Regions from separate parts of the Homo sapiens genome. Here region 2 is linked to region 1. Evidence: fine-mapped expression QTL. A gene starts in region 1. The other region holds a variant in brackets. All regions are shown on one strand. Distances are between the middles of the regions. Region 1 holds the start of AOC1 (amine oxidase copper containing 1). Region 2 overlaps LOC105375566 (a long non-coding RNA gene).

The links.
Region 2: its variant is fine-mapped to the expression of AOC1 in whole blood (INTERVAL, PIP above 0.99).

Annotation. Positions count from the first base shown.
Region 1 is chr7:150,848,438-150,857,820 of GRCh38, forward strand. It overlaps AOC1 (amine oxidase copper containing 1), which reads left to right and starts at 4,080. Exons shown (of 5, transcript NM_001091.4): 1 at 4,080-4,121; 2 at 8,018-9,383. The coding sequence starts at 8,034. The region is part of intron 1 of LOC105375567 (a long non-coding RNA gene); the gene reads right to left. RefSeq lists enhancers at 3,662-4,233, 8,398-9,241.
Region 2 is chr7:150,763,600-150,772,982 of GRCh38, forward strand. LOC105375566 (a long non-coding RNA gene) reads right to left here. Exons shown (of 4, transcript XR_928163.2): 3 at 1,253-2,377. Among named protein-coding and RNA genes, the nearest start is that of GIMAP5, 31 kb to the left of the region's middle. The variant G/C (reference allele first, on the strand shown) is at 4,596.

The DNA.
Region 1 (9,383 bases):
ATTCACTCACTGGCCAAGGACCATGCTCTCTGCAATGAGGCAGGTAAAGAAGGTGTGCTGGGTTGCATAGCATCCCCCTAAAAATTCATGTCCTCCCTGGAACCTCAGAATATGGTCTTATTTGGAAATAGGGTCGTTGCAGATGAATTAGTTAGGATGATGTCATACTGGAGTAGGGTAGGCCCTCAATACAATCACTGGTGTTCTTGAAAATAGAGGTACTGAGACAAGGAGGACGCCATGTGAGGACAGAGATTGGAGTGACATGGCCACAAGCCAAGGCACTGAGGGACACCAAGGATTGCTGGCAACACAGAAGCTGGAAGAGGAGAGGAAGGACCCTCTTCTTGAGCCTCCAAAGGGAGCATGGCCCTGCCTACACCTTGATTTCACACTTTAGGCCTCCAGAACTGTGAGACAACCCATTTCTGTTACTTTAAGCCCCTGTGTGTGGTCCTCTGTGACAGCAGCCATGGAGGCTACTGCAGAGGGGATAGAGTCCCAGGACTTGGGGGCTTGCAGTCTTGAGGGGAATCTCCTTCCAAGCCCTTGCAGGACAGGCCCTTGGGCATCAATGTGTTGCACTTACTCTGTGCCACCTTGTAATATTAATCCTTCTATGTACATGTTATGGGCCCCGTTACATAAAAAATGCAATTCTTTCTGGTGTGCTTCAGCTCCCTGCCTACACGCAGTGTTCCTCCCTGCCCTCACTGCATCCTCCAGGTGCGGGACCTGTGGTGGTTCCTGTCCTCAGCCACATCTACCCTGGTGTGAGGACCTGTAGTCACTCAGTCTGTCTCCCAGGCCTTTCTTTTATTTATTTATGGACGTCCATTGCAGAACTGAATTAATTCTACCTCAGTGCATGGATGTCGTCATCACTGGCCCATACAAGTCCTCTCTCTTGTCTTTCTCACGTGTGTATGTATGTATTCCCACTCCCACCCCCGCCCTCACATCCATTCTAATGTGTATCCACTCTTGAAAGCGGGTGGCTTGGTGTGTACGTGTTTCCTGTTGTGTAATGGCATCGTGCTATCACTCATCCTGCGTCTTCCATGATCCTGAGATCCCTTCTCAGGAGTGGCTGTGTGGACATCCATGCCTTTGCACCCGCCAACTGCACAACACCCCATGGTGTGCAGTGACCACTCTCCTGGGGGTGGCACCCCGATGGCCTCCAGCTCCCCAGCCTCACAGCCACTTGTGTCTGCATCCCACCTCTAGGCCTGGGTGAGAACCTCTTTGACATATATTCCAAGAGACAGAGTTCCTGAGTCTGGAGAGCATGCAATTCTCTCATTTGCCCACACCCTGCAAAGTGCCCTCCAGAATGGCTGTGCCATCAATAACCCCTTCCCACAACCACACATAAGGTCCCCGTTTCCCCACATCTCTGTCAACACTTGGCATCATCCAGCTTTCCCATGAAAAATTATATCTCGTTGTTGAATGCTTTGCATTTTTCTAGTAACCACTACATTTGAGCATCTTTCCATGTGCTCTTTAGCCCTTTGGGGTGCCTCTTCTGCAAGTTACCCTTGGGATTCTTTACCAGGTTTCCATGGGGACTGCTGCCTCTTTCTGACCGATTTGCAAGAGCTCCTTGTGTATTCTAGATATTAGTCCTGTCACTTTTTGAAAACAGCTTTATTGAGACACACCTTACAATTCACCCATTTAAAGTGTATAATTCAATGCATTTTAGTACATTCACAGGTACATGCAGCCATCACCTTCAATTTTAGAACTTTTTAATCACCTCAAAAAGAAACCCCATAAGCATTAGCTCTCACCCCATCCCTCCATCGCACCCCAGCCCTAAGCAACCACTAATGTGCTTCTCATCTGCTTGAGAGATTTACCTACCCCACACGTTTCATATAAATGGAATAATGTGGTCTTTTGTGACTGGCTTCTTTCATTTGCCGTAGTGGTTTTAAGGTTCATCCACATTGTGTCATGTAACAGTGATTCCTTCCTTTTTATGACTGAATGATGTTCCATTGAGTGGATAGACCACATTTTGTTGACTCATTTATCAATGCAGAGACATATGAGTCGTCTCCACTGTTTGGCTATTGTGAATAACACTGCAGTAAACACTCTGGTACAGGTTTCCCCATGGACATAGGCTTTCCTTTCTCTTGAGCATATACCCAGGAGTGGGATTGCTGGGTTATATGATAACAACGTTAAGTCATTTGAGGAACAGCCAGACAGTTTTCCGAAGTGGCTGCGTCATCTCACCATGAACTGCCTGTGAGGCTTCCAGTTTCTCTGCCTCCTGGCCCCACCTGTTATTACCTTGCTTTTGAATTCTAGCCATCCTAGTGGATATAAAGTGGTATCTCCTGGTGGTTTTGATTTGCATCCCCTGATGACTAATGACATTGAACAGCTTTCCATGTGCATATTGGCCATTTGTGTATCTTCGTGAGGGGAATATCTATTCAGATCTTTGGCTCATTTTTAATTGGATTATTTGCCTCTTATTATGGAATTGGAAGAGTTCTTCTTACATTCTAGATATAATTTTCTTATCAGATATATAATCTGTGAATATTTTCTCCCATTCTATGCTTTGTCTTTTCATTTTCCTGTGGGTGTCCTTTGAAGCATAAAAGTCTTTTAATACTGATGATGTCAATTTATCTATTTTTTTTTCTTTGGTTATTTGTGCTTTGAGGTCACATCCAAGAATTAGATGTAAAGTCAAGCAGATTTACTCCTATGTTTTCTTTTTAAGAGTTTTACAGTTTTAGCTCTTACATGTATGTCTTTGGTCCCTTTCGAGTCCGTTTCCGTGTGTGAAAGGGTCTAACTCCATCATGTGCATGTGGCCCCTTTCCCTTTAAATCTTTGCAAGTCTCTTTTCTCGATCCATCCTCACTCCATTAACTTTGTCGCAGTTTCCTTTGTGGAATGGAAACAGATTGTAGTCCTCAAAATCAGGTTGTTCCTGAAACTCTCTTCTAATCCAAATCCCCCCAATTCTCTGCGGAGTTGGTGAGCCCATAACTGAGAATACATAACTCACAGTCCTCTTGAACACTGAGGGTGAAAGACGTTAGCATTCATTGTCTTTGTATCAATCATCATTTTAACATGGAAGGCAAATCCCCTTCCTCAGAAACACCAAAGACCTTCTGGAATTGCAAGCAAGCTTCAAGTTGACTAAGTGTGTTCACCTTCCTTCATCTAGCTGCCAGTGCACACTGAAATGGCTTGCATTGCGGGCAGCAGGAAGGATGATGATGAGAAATACAAAACCCCTATAACCACAAAGCGGTGTGCAATCCCTGAGCAACCAAACCTTGGTAATGGGGGATGATGACCCCTTGGCACTCCTGAGCCACGAACTTTTCCTGACTCTATTCTTTCCTTTCCAACTAGGAGTTACCCCGGTCACCACGTTCGCCCTTCTCAACCTGACTAAGTGGGCGTTAGCACTGTCCGCCCACTGCATGGGCACTACCTGCCCCAGTGTCCTCTCCCCTCTCCGCTCTGTGCCATAGCCTTAGCTACCCTGGCCAGCTTTCTCCCAGCCAAGTCCTTCCTCCTTTCTGAATCTGGTCAGGGTCTCAAAGATCGTTAAAAAGCCGCCAAAGTTTGCAACTCGTCTTGAGTGGCTGCTCCTCCCAAACGGTTCTGCCTCTGGTGTCTTGTTCTAGGAGCGGTTGAATTCTCTGTTTTGCTGTGGGTGCCAGCCTCTATCAGCCCCTGCCCTGGTCCATCTGTCAGCTTCAGGTAAGACTACCGGCTAGGAAATGGCCCCTTGTCCTTATCTCTGCCTCTAAAATATGCCACCTAAATTAACAGATCGTGGCATTGCATGGCTCGTCACAGAGAAGCCAAGGCAAATTCTTGTGGAAGGCGGCACTTGTCTGGAAACAGACTCAGGACAAGTGTGCTGCACAGCCAGCTTCCTCAAACCCACTCTCGCCACTGTAGCTGCCCACAGAGGCACCTCCCAAGCCATAGGCCCCTCCTAGGCCAGCTCAGGCCTCACCTTGTCCCTCCCTGCAGGGCGGGGTCTGATTGACTTCAAGAAGGAGTCAGAGATCAGCTTAAGGGCAAAGGCTGGAAGCAGAGCGAACTGGGAGCAGAGCACACAGGTGCGTTCTGATGGGTATTCGGGAGAGTCAAGAAGGGGCTGACCTGGAGGACAGAAAAGCAGTGGAAGGAGGGCACAGAGTGAGGGGCAGAAGAAACAGGACACAGAGGGAGGAGGGCCAGGAAGTGAGGGCGGGAGCCCAGCACATCACAGAAGGTGCCCGGGTGCTTGGTGGCAGGCAACAGCCGGCCAGGGTGGAGTGGGGAAAGCTCAGAGAGGAGGGTGAGCAGGGAGAGGGCTTGCTTCCTGTTCCTGCCTGGAGGTCTCACCAGCCACCACCCCCACTGCCACTGCACATGGGGACAGAGGTTTGTCCTGGGGAAAGCAAAGGTCTCTTCCACATCTTTCTCCTTCCTGGAAAAGCAAAAAGAAACGTGGGTATAAGAGGTTGTAAAAAAGGAGACCCAGCCGTGAAAGGACATGGAGGTACCCTAAATGCACACTGCCAAGCAAAAGAAGCCAATCTGAAAAGGCTGCAGACTGTAAGATTCCAAATACAGGACGTTCTGGAAAAGGCAAAACTATGGAGACAATAAAAAGAGCAGTGATTGCTAGGGTTTCGGAGGAAGAGGTGGAGCACAGAAGATTTTGGGGGAGGTGGAACTATTCTGTGTGATATTCTAATGGTGGATCCATGTCATTGTCCGTTTGTCCAACCCATAGAATATGCAGCAGCAAGAGTGAGTCCTGATGTAAACTGTGGGCTCTGGGTGAGAGTGATGTGCAGGTTCATCAGCCACAAATGTATGGCTCTGGTGTGGATATTGATAGTGGGGAGGCTGCGTGTGTAGGGGCTGTGAGTATACAGAAACTCTCAGTACCTTTCGCTCAATTTTGCTATGAACCTAAAATTCCTCTTTAAAAGACTCCTATTTAAAAGACTTTAATAGACTTTATAAAGTTTGTTAAAAGACTTTTAATAGACTTTTTAAAGACTTTTAACAGACTTTATAAAGTCTATTAAGAAATCTATTAAAGTCTATTTTTAAAAGTCTATTAAAAAAAAAGTCTACTATAATCCCAGCACTTTGGGAGGCCAACGCAGGAGGATCACTTGAGCCCAGGAGTTCAAGACCAGCCTGGGCAACATAGTGAGATCCTGACTATATATATATATATATATATATATATATATATATATTTATTTATTTATTTATTTAAGTCTAATAAGAAGTCTATTTGGGGCCAGGCCTGGTGGCTCATGCCTGTAATCCCAGCACTTTGGGAGGCTGAGGCAGGTGGACCACTTGAGGTCAGGAATTCAAGACCAGCCTGACCAACACGGTGAAACACCATCTCTACTAAAAACAAAAAATTAGCCGGGCATGGTGGTGCACACCTGTAATCCCAACTATTCCAGAGGCTGAGGCAGGAGAATTGCTTGAACCTGGGAGGCAGAGGTAGCAGTGAGCCAAGATCGCATCACTGCACTCCAGCCTGGGCTACAGAGCAAGACTGTCTCAGGAAAAAGAAAAAATAGTCTATTTAAAGAAGAAAAAAAAGAGGCCTGGCCAATATTTAATAGGAGAACACAAGAACTCACCTCATATCCTTCCTGCTGGCTCTGGGTTCCGCCTGCAGCCCCTGCCTCACCTGCTCCCTCCAGGTAAGCAGGGCCTCCGAGAGCCCAAGATCATGTGGGTTCCAGGGTCTTCTGCCAGCACCAGAGGGCAAGACAAGGCAACTAGAGGGACATCCCCATGAGAGGCCATGACCATGGAGCAAAACGAGGGCAAGGGGAGAGCCCTCGGGGAGAGGGGCATGGGAAAGGGAGAGAAGGACATCTCAGATCAGCCTTTACCGTGGCCTCCAGGGCTAGAGAGCCCTCGGGTGATGGAACAGGCCCAGCCAACACCTTTCATTTGTCTATGAATCAAGAACTGCCCATCGTGTACAAATTAAATACAAAGTGCTAAGGGGACTAGTGGAGAAGTATGTTAGTTGGGGCCAAAAACAGCATTCCTCGGCAGTGCGGGGTTTCAGCTGACCTCAAAAGGTGGCAAAGGATGTGACACTGGCCCAGAGTCGGGTGGGAAGGGACAATGTGCAGCTGAGCTTCTCTGGAGGAAAAAAGCCACGGGAAAACAGGGCCTCTAGTTAACACATGGGTTGTGTTCCCAACGCTTGTGCTTCGGAAATGTGATGTGTAAATGCATTTTCCAAAAACAAAAGCAAGAAATGAAAAGCGCTCATGATGGTCAGGTTTCCTCAGTGGGTCACTCCACGATACACCCAAAGTGGAGCTGCTGCACCTCAGTTACACCTCACACCCTGTGCCGCCGACTTTCCAGGTGAAATCCTCGGGGCCTCCCTTGCAGGCAGCCTGGGCCCCCTGGGAAGAGGCTGGGCCAGGCAGAGGTCTGAGACAGGAGTGGATTAACCCTCTCTGCTACCTGTCTGTCTGCACAGGAGAACGAGTTTTCTCCAGGTTTACCCCCAGGGCTTCTGATTTAGGGAGCAAAAGGCAACTACCTATGAAAATATGAAAACAAGGATCTCTCAGAGTCCAACCCACTCATGCATCCACCTTATAAATCAAGTGTCTGTGCCTCAGGCACTGCTTGCAGGAAGTGAAAAGCACAGCTGAGACAGGGAGGAATCCTGAAGCGGGGCTCCCAGCTCAACCCAGAGCCTTGAGGAAGGGGGTGCAAGGTGGCAAAGGCAGTGCTTCTGTAGGGAAATTTCACGGTGACGGCAGCCTTCCAGGGAGGCCCACATCACCTAGGAGGACAAGTTAGGGTCTGGAGAAACTAAGGCTGGGAGACAGCTCCAGCCAGCATCTGTAGCAACAGCGCAACAGGCAAGAGTAACAGTCTCCCAGAGACTCCGCACACAGCACATGGGAAGACAGAGCTGTGGCCACCACGTCTCCCAGCCCTGCAGGAGGCTCACAGCTACAAGCACAGGATTTTACAGCTGCTTGGGGAATGGGGTTATGAGGTGAAGACCCTGACCCACCCTCCCTGAGAAAGGAAAAGGCATCTTCCTAAGATGAAACCCTCCCTGAGGTCCCCTCCTAGTAGCCTTGGGTGGACAAGAGAGGTGAATGGGGCACAAAGAAGGCTAGGCAGGACTGGGCACCTCTACCTCACCCCCAAAGCCATCAGTCTGCAGCCTAGTCACACCTGAATCACTCTACATTGCGTAAAACTTTAAATGGGCTGGTGTCGATAGCCTGTATTTAACAAGAAGAGCAGCTAACATTTCTCATGTATTTCCCATATGGCAGACATTGTTACAAACACTTTATATTTACTGTTTAATTGATTTCTCTCCACAACCCTAGGAGCTAAGCACTGTTGTCATTATTTTCATTTTAAAACTAAGAACATGAAGGCCCAGAGAGTTTAAGCAGCGTGCCCAAGGCCACACAGCAAGTCCTAGTGGCATGAGTCACTGGGACTTGACTCAGACAGCCTGACTCTAGAGCCTACCTTTGAATTTCTACACTAAATTTCAAAATCTGTCTACCTAAAAGGTATTTCGTTGTGTCAGAAATGTAGTTTTGCTGTTAATACAGGTGTCTTCTTCTCCAGGACACAAGAAGCACCTGGGGGCATGTGCAGGGGCCCAGCCTGGCCTCTGTGACTCACGGCACCCCTGGCTGAGATAATACACAAAAACAAGGGTGTTCCCCTGAGTAAGGAAGGCTGCAGGACTGAAGGACATTTACAGAGGAGTGAGGAGAGGGCAGAAATAAATGGATGGATGCACAGGCAGCGGCCCGACGGCGCTGGGGACTATGCATGGGGCCCCAGCTGCCCCAGGACAGCCTCCAGCTTGGGGCAGGGCAAGGGGAGGAAGCTCAGTCCATGGGAAAATTCCATGGCCCTAACCTGAGGGAAGCCCATCTCTGCCCATAAGACAACTAAGTTCATCTCCTCTATTGCATTCCAGAGCCGTGGAGCGAGAGATGCCGGCCCTGGGCTGGGCCGTGGCTGCCATCCTGATGCTGCAGACGGCCATGGCGGAGCCCTCCCCGGGGACTCTGCCCAGGAAGGCAGGGGTGTTTTCAGACCTAAGCAACCAAGAGCTGAAGGCAGTGCACAGCTTCCTCTGGTCCAAGAAGGAGCTGAGGCTGCAGCCCTCCAGTACCACCACCATGGCCAAGAACACCGTGTTTCTCATCGAGATGCTGCTGCCCAAGAAGTACCATGTGCTGAGGTTTCTGGATAAAGGTGAAAGGCATCCTGTGCGGGAAGCCCGTGCCGTCATCTTCTTTGGTGACCAGGAGCATCCCAATGTCACCGAGTTTGCTGTGGGGCCCCTGCCAGGGCCCTGCTACATGCGAGCACTGTCCCCCAGGCCTGGGTACCAGTCCTCCTGGGCATCGAGGCCCATCTCCACAGCAGAGTATGCCCTCCTCTACCACACCCTGCAGGAAGCCACCAAGCCCCTGCATCAGTTCTTCCTCAATACCACAGGCTTCTCATTCCAAGACTGCCATGACAGATGCCTGGCCTTCACCGATGTGGCCCCCCGGGGTGTGGCTTCTGGCCAGCGCCGCAGTTGGCTTATCATACAGCGCTATGTAGAAGGCTACTTTCTGCACCCCACTGGGCTGGAGCTCCTCGTGGATCATGGGAGCACAGATGCTGGGCACTGGGCCGTGGAGCAGGTGTGGTACAACGGGAAGTTCTATGGGAGCCCAGAGGAACTGGCTCGGAAGTATGCAGATGGAGAGGTGGACGTGGTGGTCCTGGAGGACCCGCTGCCTGGGGGCAAGGGGCATGACAGCACAGAGGAGCCGCCCCTCTTCTCCTCCCACAAGCCCCGCGGGGACTTCCCCAGCCCCATCCATGTGAGCGGCCCCCGCTTGGTCCAGCCCCACGGCCCTCGCTTCAGGCTGGAGGGCAACGCTGTGCTCTACGGCGGCTGGAGCTTTGCCTTCCGGCTGCGCTCCTCCTCCGGGCTGCAGGTCCTGAACGTGCACTTCGGCGGAGAGCGCATTGCCTATGAGGTCAGCGTGCAAGAGGCAGTGGCGCTGTATGGAGGACACACACCTGCAGGCATGCAGACCAAGTACCTCGATGTCGGCTGGGGCCTGGGCAGCGTCACTCATGAGTTAGCCCCCGGCATCGACTGCCCGGAGACCGCCACCTTCCTGGACACTTTCCACTACTATGATGCCGATGACCCGGTCCATTATCCCCGAGCCCTCTGCCTCTTTGAAATGCCCACAGGGGTGCCCCTTCGGCGGCACTTTAATTCCAACTTTAAAGGTGGCTTCAACTTCTATGCGGGGCTGAAGGGCCAGGTGCTG
Region 2 (9,383 bases), 85 kb before region 1:
TTGACCTAAGTTAACTGAAACCTTATGCTGACAGAAAAACCTGTACCTGATTTTTTTTTTTTTTTTTGAGATGGAGTCTCACAGGCTGGAGTGCAGTGATGCTATTTCAGCTCACTGCAACCTCCGCCTCCTGGGTTCAAGTGATTCTCCTGCCTCAGCCTCCCGAGTAGCTGGGATTACAGGCATGCACCACCACGCCAGGTGAATTTTTGTATGTTTAGTGGAGAAAGGATTTTGCCATGTTTGCCAGGCTGGTCTTGAACCCCTGACATCAGTTGATCCTCTTGCCTCAGCCTCCCAAAGTACTGGGATTATAAGCGTGAGCCACTGTGCCTGGCCCTGAATGTTTATAGCAGCTTTATTCATTACCAAAGCTAGAAATAGTTCAGCTGTCTTTCACAGATGAAAGGGTAAGTAAGTCTGTGTATATCCAGACAATGGGATACCATTCAGCAATAAAAAGTATCAACCCACAACACATGAATGAATCTGAAATTCTTTTTGCTAAATGAGAGAAAATCCAAAATGTTACATACTGAATGATTCTATTTATATGGCATTCTGGAAAAAGCAAAATTATAAAAATAGAAAACAAATCCGTGGTTGCCTGGAGTTGGGGGAGTCCTATGAAATGATGCCCCACTAAAGGGCCTCATTAGGAAACTTTTGGGCAGTCCAATTGTTCTGAGTTAAACTGTCTTGTTGTACACGTGACTCTATGCCTTTCTCAATCCCATAAACCTATACACCACAAAGGGTAAACTTTGCTGTATACAAATTTTTAAAAAATCAACTGAGATCTTGGGGAAATCCAAGATGAAAAGCGGACTGCTAAAATGAATCTAACCGTATTACAAATAAAAAAACATAACCATACGGAAGTTAGGAGGGAAGAAACGAGCTGACCTAAGTGCCTTTGTAAAGCAATGTTTTGACTGGAGAGTGTCAGGCCAAAGACAAGAAGAACAGTACAGAAGCAACAAACTCTCATTGGTAAATTCGTTTTTCACAAACAACCCTAAACCTATGGTATACTTGGGCTCAAAAATAATTAAATATAGTGTAAGCTATGGGATCCACTTTTCTCATTGTCAGAAAGAAGTTACAAATAAGCAGAGATAATGCTAGAATAAATCCTGGTGCTGGACTGGAGTTAGAAATATCAGTATGAACTCATGGTTGATTTATTTTTAGTAGATACAAAAATATAATATGTGTGCATATATGGGTCAGTTATACATACATGAATTACCTAGCTCTGCCCACTGAGAGAGAGGAGACTATGAGCAGTGACACCAGTAGCAATGAGCACAGCCAGCACTCAGATCTTGATTTCGAAATGCCGTTCCCTGATGAAAGGAACCAGGACTCCTTCAAGAAGTGTAGAAGTGGCTGATTCCAGGGCTAGGATAGGGAAAATAAATATAAGATGAGCCTGGAACACCTTATAGTGCCAGAAAGTAAAGAAGTGAAAACAGGATAAAGCATGTGAAAAATGCAGAAGAGGAGGCAAAAATTTGCCCCTCCTCTTTTATGGTTTTGTTGTTGTTGTTGTTGGGGGTTTTTTGTTTTTGTTTTGTTTTCTTGTTTGTTTGTTTGTTGCCTGGGCCTGGAGAATTAAATAGACATAAGACAAATCAACAGGAGAAAAGTATATAAATTATTTAATGCAAGTTTTTTAATGGCAGGAGAGCATTCATAAGGAAATGAAGACACAAAGCAGCAGCTAGAGTCAAACATTTATGCCCTGAATTGTGAAAATGTAACAAGGCAAAGGGGCTTATGCTAGGGTAAATAACTGGGTAAATAAGTAATTAGGAACATAAGGGATGCTTGTATAGATTCCTATCAGCCTCAACTTCCTATCCTTTGTGATGAGAATGTTACTTTCTTCTTGGTTTAGGGAGAACACCTTTCACATGGGAATTTCATCTCTGGCTTTTAAAGAACAGTGAAGGTCAGAGTGATCTTCTTGCATCTCCTGTTTTTATGTGCCTTTAGTTTAAAATAATTCTGATGCCAAAGTGGCATATTTGGGGATGATGTGTTCTGAGTGACATGTTTTGGGGTAGTGTATTCTGAGCCTCTTCATTCCCCATTTGAAACTTTACTTTTAGAAAGTTTCATATGTTAAAAGCCAAGTTAGTAGCTGTGAGCAGATTTGGGTTGGAAGTTGTGAAACAAGAGATCAACGAAGGGAAAGAAAAACAAGGATCGGAACACACAGAAGAACAAATATTCCCCGTATCTTATTGACACAGCCTTTTAGTCCTGAGAACAGTTCAGTTGAACAGTTGCGTCTCATTTTAGGAGGCCGTGTTGCAGTTGGGCTTCCATCCAAGTTGAGACTTCATAATGTAAACAATAAGAGGCATTTCTTTTTTTTTTTTTTTTTTTTTTTTTTTTTTTTTTTTTTTTTTGAGATGGAGTCTCGCTCTGTCGCCCAGGCTGGAGTGCAGTGGCGCGATCTCGGCTCACTGCAAGCTCCGCCTCCCGGGTTCACGCCATTCTCCTGCCTCAGCCTCCCGCGTAGCTGGGACTACAGGCGCCCGCCACCACGCCAGGCTAATTTTTTTGTGTTTTTTAGTAGAGACGGGGTTTCACTGTGTTAGCGAGGATGGTCTCGATCTCCTGACCTCGTGATCCGCCCGCCTCGGCCTCCCAAAGTGCTGGGATTACAGGCGTGAGCCACCGCGCCCAGCCCAATAAGAGGCATTTCTATGGAAACAAAAGAAAAATAAAGGTTAATGTTTAGGGCAAGTTATAAGCCCAGCTTTTGAGTCCAGAGGGCAATCAGTTGGTAAAGGGTACTATAGGTTGGGCTCAAAGCATCTTTAGATAGAGAGTGAAGATAAGCAGTGGTAATTCTGATCAATTTCCTGATTTGCAGTTTGAATGTCTCTGGTGAGGTCATTGGGTGTTCCAGTGGACTTTCTGAGTGGCCTACACAGCAACAGGCACAAAGGTTGCTTATATATTAGTTGTGGTAGTGAGTTCTCTGAAGTTTATATCAAGTCATCCAGTTTCAGCTTGCAAAATTTCAGGAAAAGGGCAGCTTCAGTTTTCAGTGATGTCAAGTCAAGAGAGTAGGAGAAAAACATGAAGCATTAGCCTGAAGATTTGTTGCCGGATATGGGAGGAAATTAGAGTTTAATATCTAATCCATTCTACATATAGATAACAAAACTTCAAAGACAATGAACAGTACTAGAATCCAATAACGGGTACACTATAGTTTTTGTTAATATAATTTTTCTCTCCACAGTCACTCCCACTTTTACCAAACATAATCACAGTAAGACTAATTTTTTTACAAAATAAGTCTAGTCACATTAAACTTGTCTTGATTATTTATATAATGCAGCAAGAATAGTGATTGATCGTATAGGCTCTTTTTAAGTCTGCTTTGCTGGAACTGCTAATAAGGAATCTAAAAGCCTCTCAAGTCTAGGAAGCCAAGCCAAGAGCTTGTCATTAGATTTTGCCTGTAACACCTCTAGATTTGGGTGAGTTCCTCTGTTCTCGAGGTCTCCAAAATATTTTTAAGGCTCCTGGGCCTGCATGAAAGTTACCTTCTTTACTCAACTATAAGGCTAGGAACTCTGTGAGCAAGGTACCAGGCTGGGGGTTTTTTAAGGGGCCTTATTCGCCCCACAAAGTCATCCTTAGTTTCTTAAAACTGTGTAGTCATATCTGATTCTATGACATTCTAAAAATTACATTCCAAAGCTTTGGTAATGTAACCAATGTTTTCCATTGTGTCCTGTTACAAACAGATAGATTCTTATTGGACCTATACAAACAACTATGGTCATGAATGTAAGAATACTCACTCATCATTTTCAAATTCTGGAGGGATTAGGTAGGGAGAAAATCAAATGCTTTATTTCTGTTTACAAATGCATAATCTACCAGATTGTGGTCAACTACAGATAGCGTAGGATAAAAGAGAAAACATTTCCTCAGATCTGGAAAACAAAATATTAAAGAACGAGCAATGTTTTGAAAAAAGGTAATTTTTTAAAGCATCATTTTTTTTCATCAGTTCATTTAGTCCCATCCAATTAATTTTTGTTTTGCCCAACATCGGGTTAACAGTTTTACAAACCAGTCAGTTTCTTCATTAGAGTTCTGGAAATTCTTACCCAGGCCAATGGTGGGATCTTAAAGTTATCAAAAACCTGTACTTGTTGGAGTCTTTTCCATGATCTCTTTGAAGACAAATTTTGACCATAGTGGCTTGCAAAAGCTTTTAGGAAAATATCACAGTAAAATAACATGTAAATTATAAAAGATTTTTAAGTAGTCACATTTAAATATCTAATGAGAGTTTCTTACAATCTAATTGATGAGGAAATTTGGTTATTTCTGTGACATACAACATTGTAAAATAAGATGTAGAATTCTGATTGATAACATTATATCAGACATATGATGAATAGCTAAGGGTATTGACAAATTTTAAAGAATTTTATTTCTGAAACACTCTTATTAGTAACATGTGCCCATATAAATATAAAGAAAGCTAAACGTCACTTTTACTTGACAGTGCTTCCCACATAATTTAACATATCAAATAAGCCAATTAGTTTAAT[G/C]TCCCTCTTTTACAAGGTGAGAGAGAAATTCTTTCACATTTTCCAGGAGCCCATCTCAAAAGTCCCAAAGTTAGTTCAAGATCAATAAAAAAGGCTTAATTTAGAAATTAATCTTGGGAAGTTTGTCAGAAACGTCAAAAGGGGCCGAGTATGGTGGCTCACACCTTTAATCTCCACATTTTGGGAGGCCAAGGCAGGAGGATGGCTTGAGCCTGGGAGTTAATACCAGCCTGGGCAACACAGACCTATCTCTACAAAATATTTTTTAAAACATTAGCGGAAGATAGTAGCATGCACCAGTAGTCCCAGCTACTCAGGAGGCTGAAGTAGGAGGATCCATTGAGCCCGGGGGTCAAGGCCGCAGTGAGCTGTGATCATGCCACTGCATCGTAACCTGGGTAACAGAGTGAGACCCTATTTCAAAAAATAAAAACAATAATAAAAACTAGGAGTGGAAAGGATAGGGGTTTAGATGAAACAAGATTGCCCATGTATAACTGTTGATGCCTAATGATAGATACGTTGAGTTCAGTACGCTATTTTTTCTACTTCTATGTATTTAGAATTTTCCACTTAAAAAGTTTTTTTAAATAGATTGACAGAGGTTTATCAAAGTTCATAATATTTCAATTTTTCCAAATATTTTAGATATAATGGGTTAAATGGGATACTTTTCAACCTTTCAGTGAAAGAGTAAGACATACAATTTATAGTCATTTGGTATGTCTTGATAAAGCTTTTTTGGTATACTTCCCAGACATTGAGAAATCAAGTGATTCTAATGACTGGCCATTAAATCCTTCTGCAAGTCAAGCAGTCTCCACTATTTTGTTTTCAACAAAAAGGAAGACAGATATATCCATCAATAGAAATTAAAAATTAATGAGAAACCACTATGCGGTTTTGGCATTTATTTTGGAAGGAGTACAAAGAATTGAGTGGCATTAGCATAACAGAATTGATTATATTTCTATTGATTCGTTTATATGAACAAGGCTTCTCAATTTTTGCACTGAAGTAATTTCATTTAAAAATGTTAATATCTACAATGTGCTAGAAATTACATCCTTTGCAAATATTCATGATGAAAAAATTTTAGAAGTTCAGCTTAAAATCAAGAGAAGACCTAAATTTTTAAAAATCCCTTTAGTGAATACAGAAGTAAAAAAGTTTGAAGACCATTGCCTTAAAGAAAAACTTACATGAATGCATAAGGATATTTTGTAAGAAGACTCATGATAGTAAAAAGCTACAAACAACCCAAATATTCATCAATACTGCATTGGATAAGCAAATTATAGAATATCCACACAGTGGAATGATATTCAGCAGGAAAAATGAACAAAACACAATTACCTACATCAACATGAATAAATATCATATACATAATGTTTAATCAAAGAAGAACCGTTCTTTTCCCAGAAGAATACAGAATCTGATTCCATTTTTGACAAGGTTAGTCGTGGAAAAAAACTAAAAATATATATTGTTTAGAGCAACAGACATAGGTGATACAAAACTATAAAGAAAAGCAAGGAAAGGCTGGGCGCGGTGACTCACGCCTGTAATCCAAACTCTTTGGGAGGCCAGAGCAGAAGGATTCCTGAGGACAGGAGTTCGAGACCAGCCTGGGCAAAACAGTGAGGCCCTATCTCTACAAAAAAAAAAAAAAAATTGGCCAGGTGAGGTGGTGCACAAGGTGATCTTGCTACACAAAAGTCCAAAGTGGGAGGATCGTTTGAGCCCAGGAGGTCAAGGCTGCAGTGAGCTATGATTGCACCACTGCACTCCAGCCTAGGCAATGGAGCAACACCCTATCTCAAAAAAAAGAAAAAGAAAGAAAGTGAATGATTAACACAAAAGAGAGGATAGTAATAATACCCTAGCGACAGGGAGAGGAACTCATGGAGGTGGGATGGGAAGCTTCGAAGGGCAATGCTCTACTCCTTAAACTGGGTATGGCTTTATTGAGCTTTATGCTGTACATATACTCTTATATATATATATTCATGATATACTTAACTATAAATATAGCTCAACCATATTGAAAAACATGAAACAAGACCTGAACAAACAGAAAAACAGACCATGTTCTGGTATGAAAATACTTACCACTATGAAGATATACATTCTTCCAAAATGGATATATACATAATTAAATTCCAATTGAAATCTGTTGTTTTTGTGTGTGGAATTAGATATGCTTTCTTCAGGCTCCCTTGTGCGGAAAAAAAATGCCTGAACATAAGTTAGTCTGGCATCGGCATAAAACACACAAATAAATCAGTAGGACAATATACATAGTACATAATGAATCCTAGTTAATAATGGGAATAAATGTATGAAAAAGCAGAGGAAAATTGGTTATTTAGTTAAGTGGTGAGGAAAAAACAGCTTTCCAATTAGAAGAAAGTAAAGCTGGGCTGCTACCTCACACTACATAAAAATCCAAGAGGCCGGGCACAGTGACTCACACTGTAATCCCAACACTTTGGGAGGCTGAGACAGGTGGATCACGAAGTCAAGAGATCGAGACCATCCTGACCAACATGGTGAAACCCCATCTATACTAAAAACACAAAAATTAGCTGACCGTGGTGGTGCCCGCCTGTAGTCCCAGCTACTTGGGAGGCTGAGACAGGAGAATCGCTTTATCCCGGGAGACGGAGGTTGTAGTGAGCCGAGATCGCACCACTGCACTCCAGCCTGGCAACAGAGCAAGACTCCATCTAAAAAAATAAAAAATAAAATAAAATCCAAGAAGGATTGAATTTGTGTCTGTAAAAAAATAACATGAAAATCTTAAGACAAAATACAGGAGATTATATGTACAAGCCAAGAGTTGAATGTACTTTCTTAACCAAGACATGAAGCCAGAAGTTATAAAAGAAAAGATGGCTTTAAAGTGTTTAATATGGCAAAGATGCCATAAACAAATTTAAAGATAAAAAAATAAATTTTTCTCTTGAGCCCAGGAGTTGTAGGCTGCAGTGAGATCTGATTGCACCACTGAAATCCAGCTTGGGTAACAGAGTGAGACCTCATCTCTAATGAAAAAAAAAAAAATTAAGATGAAATTTTAAAATCTATGTTACCAAAAAAACTCACAAAAATAAAAATGTGCAACATCCTTAGACTGTTCACAGATGAACAATCAATGGCCAATACACATGTGAAAAAAATTCACTTCATAATGAAGGAAATGAAAATCAAAACAACTTGAAAGCATTGTAAAAAGTTATATACTATTGACAAAAATTAGGGGTGAGCTGAGGTCTGGAGGTCGAGATCAGCCTGACCAACATGGAGAAACCCCATCTCGACTAAAAATACAAAAGGCCGGGTGTGGTGGCACATGCCTGTAATCCCAGCTACTCCGGAGGCTGAGGCAGGAGAATCGCTTGAATCCGGGAGGCGGAGGTTGCAGTGAGCCAAGATCGCGCCATTGCACTCCAGCCTGGGCAACAAGAGCAAAACTCCATCTCAAAAAAAAAAAAAAAAAAAAAAATAGTGGTGAGGTTGGGAAGAAACGCAAAAGATGCTTTAATGCATTGCTGGTAAATGTAAATTATTACAGCCTTTTAAGAAAGCTCTCAATAGGATTTATTTTATTTTAAAATATTTATACACTTTAATGCATCAACCCTATTCCAAAGACTCCGTCTCATGGCAATAAAAGCTCCAGTTAGTATAGTCTGGTTTTGCAGAATTGTTTCTAGAGGCAAAAACATAGGAAGAGAGGTAAAAGTGCATCAGTAGGGATACTCATATTGGTATACTCATATCATGGAAATATTATGCAGCACTAAAAAGGATTATTAGAATGGCTAAAATTAAATACACTGAACACACTGAGTGTTGGTGAAGATGTGGAGGGACTGGTGGTATATAAAATGGTGCAATTGGCCGGGCTCAGTGGCTCACGCCTGTAATCCCAGCACTTTGGGAGGCCAAGACAGGCAGATCACCTGAGGCCAGGAGTTCAAGACCAGCCTGGCCAACATGGCGAAATGCTGTCTCCACTAAAAATACAAAAAAAAAAAATTAGCCAGGTGTGGTGGCAGGCGCCTATAATCCCAGTTTCTCAGGAGACTGAGGCAGGAGAATTGCTTGAACCCAGGAGGCGGAGGTTGCAGTGAGCTGAGATCACACCAGTACACTCCAGCCTGGGCAACAAGAGCAAAACTGCATCTCAAAAAAAAAAAAAAAGTGGTGCAATGACTTTAGAAAACAATTGGCCAGTTTCTTAAAAAGTAATCTTACACACCCATAATATGACTCAGGCATTCCACTCCTAGGTATATTCCTAAGAGAAAAGAAATCATGTGTTCATAAATGTCTTATACCTGATCATTCATAAAGCTTTATCTGCAATAGGCAAAAGTTGGGAATAAACAAAATATCTATCAACAGGTGAATGGATAAACTAACTGTAGCATATCTATACAATGGAATATGACTTCTCAATAAAAAGATATGAGCTACTGATTCACACAACATGGGTGAACCTCAAAATTATTATGCTCAGTGGAAAAAGTCAAACAAAAGGAGTACATATAGTATATATGGTGTGATTCCACTTACTCTAGAAAATGCTCACTATTCTATAGTGACAAAAAGCAAGTCAGTGGCTGCCCGGGGATGGGGGTGAGAAGTGTCAGGAGGAAGGACTGACAAGGGTCATGAGGATATTTTGGGGGGGGCCAATGGATATGTGTCAAAACTTATTAAATCGTACACTTTAAATATGATTCTCTCTCTCCCACTCTGTCTCTCTCTCCCTCTGAA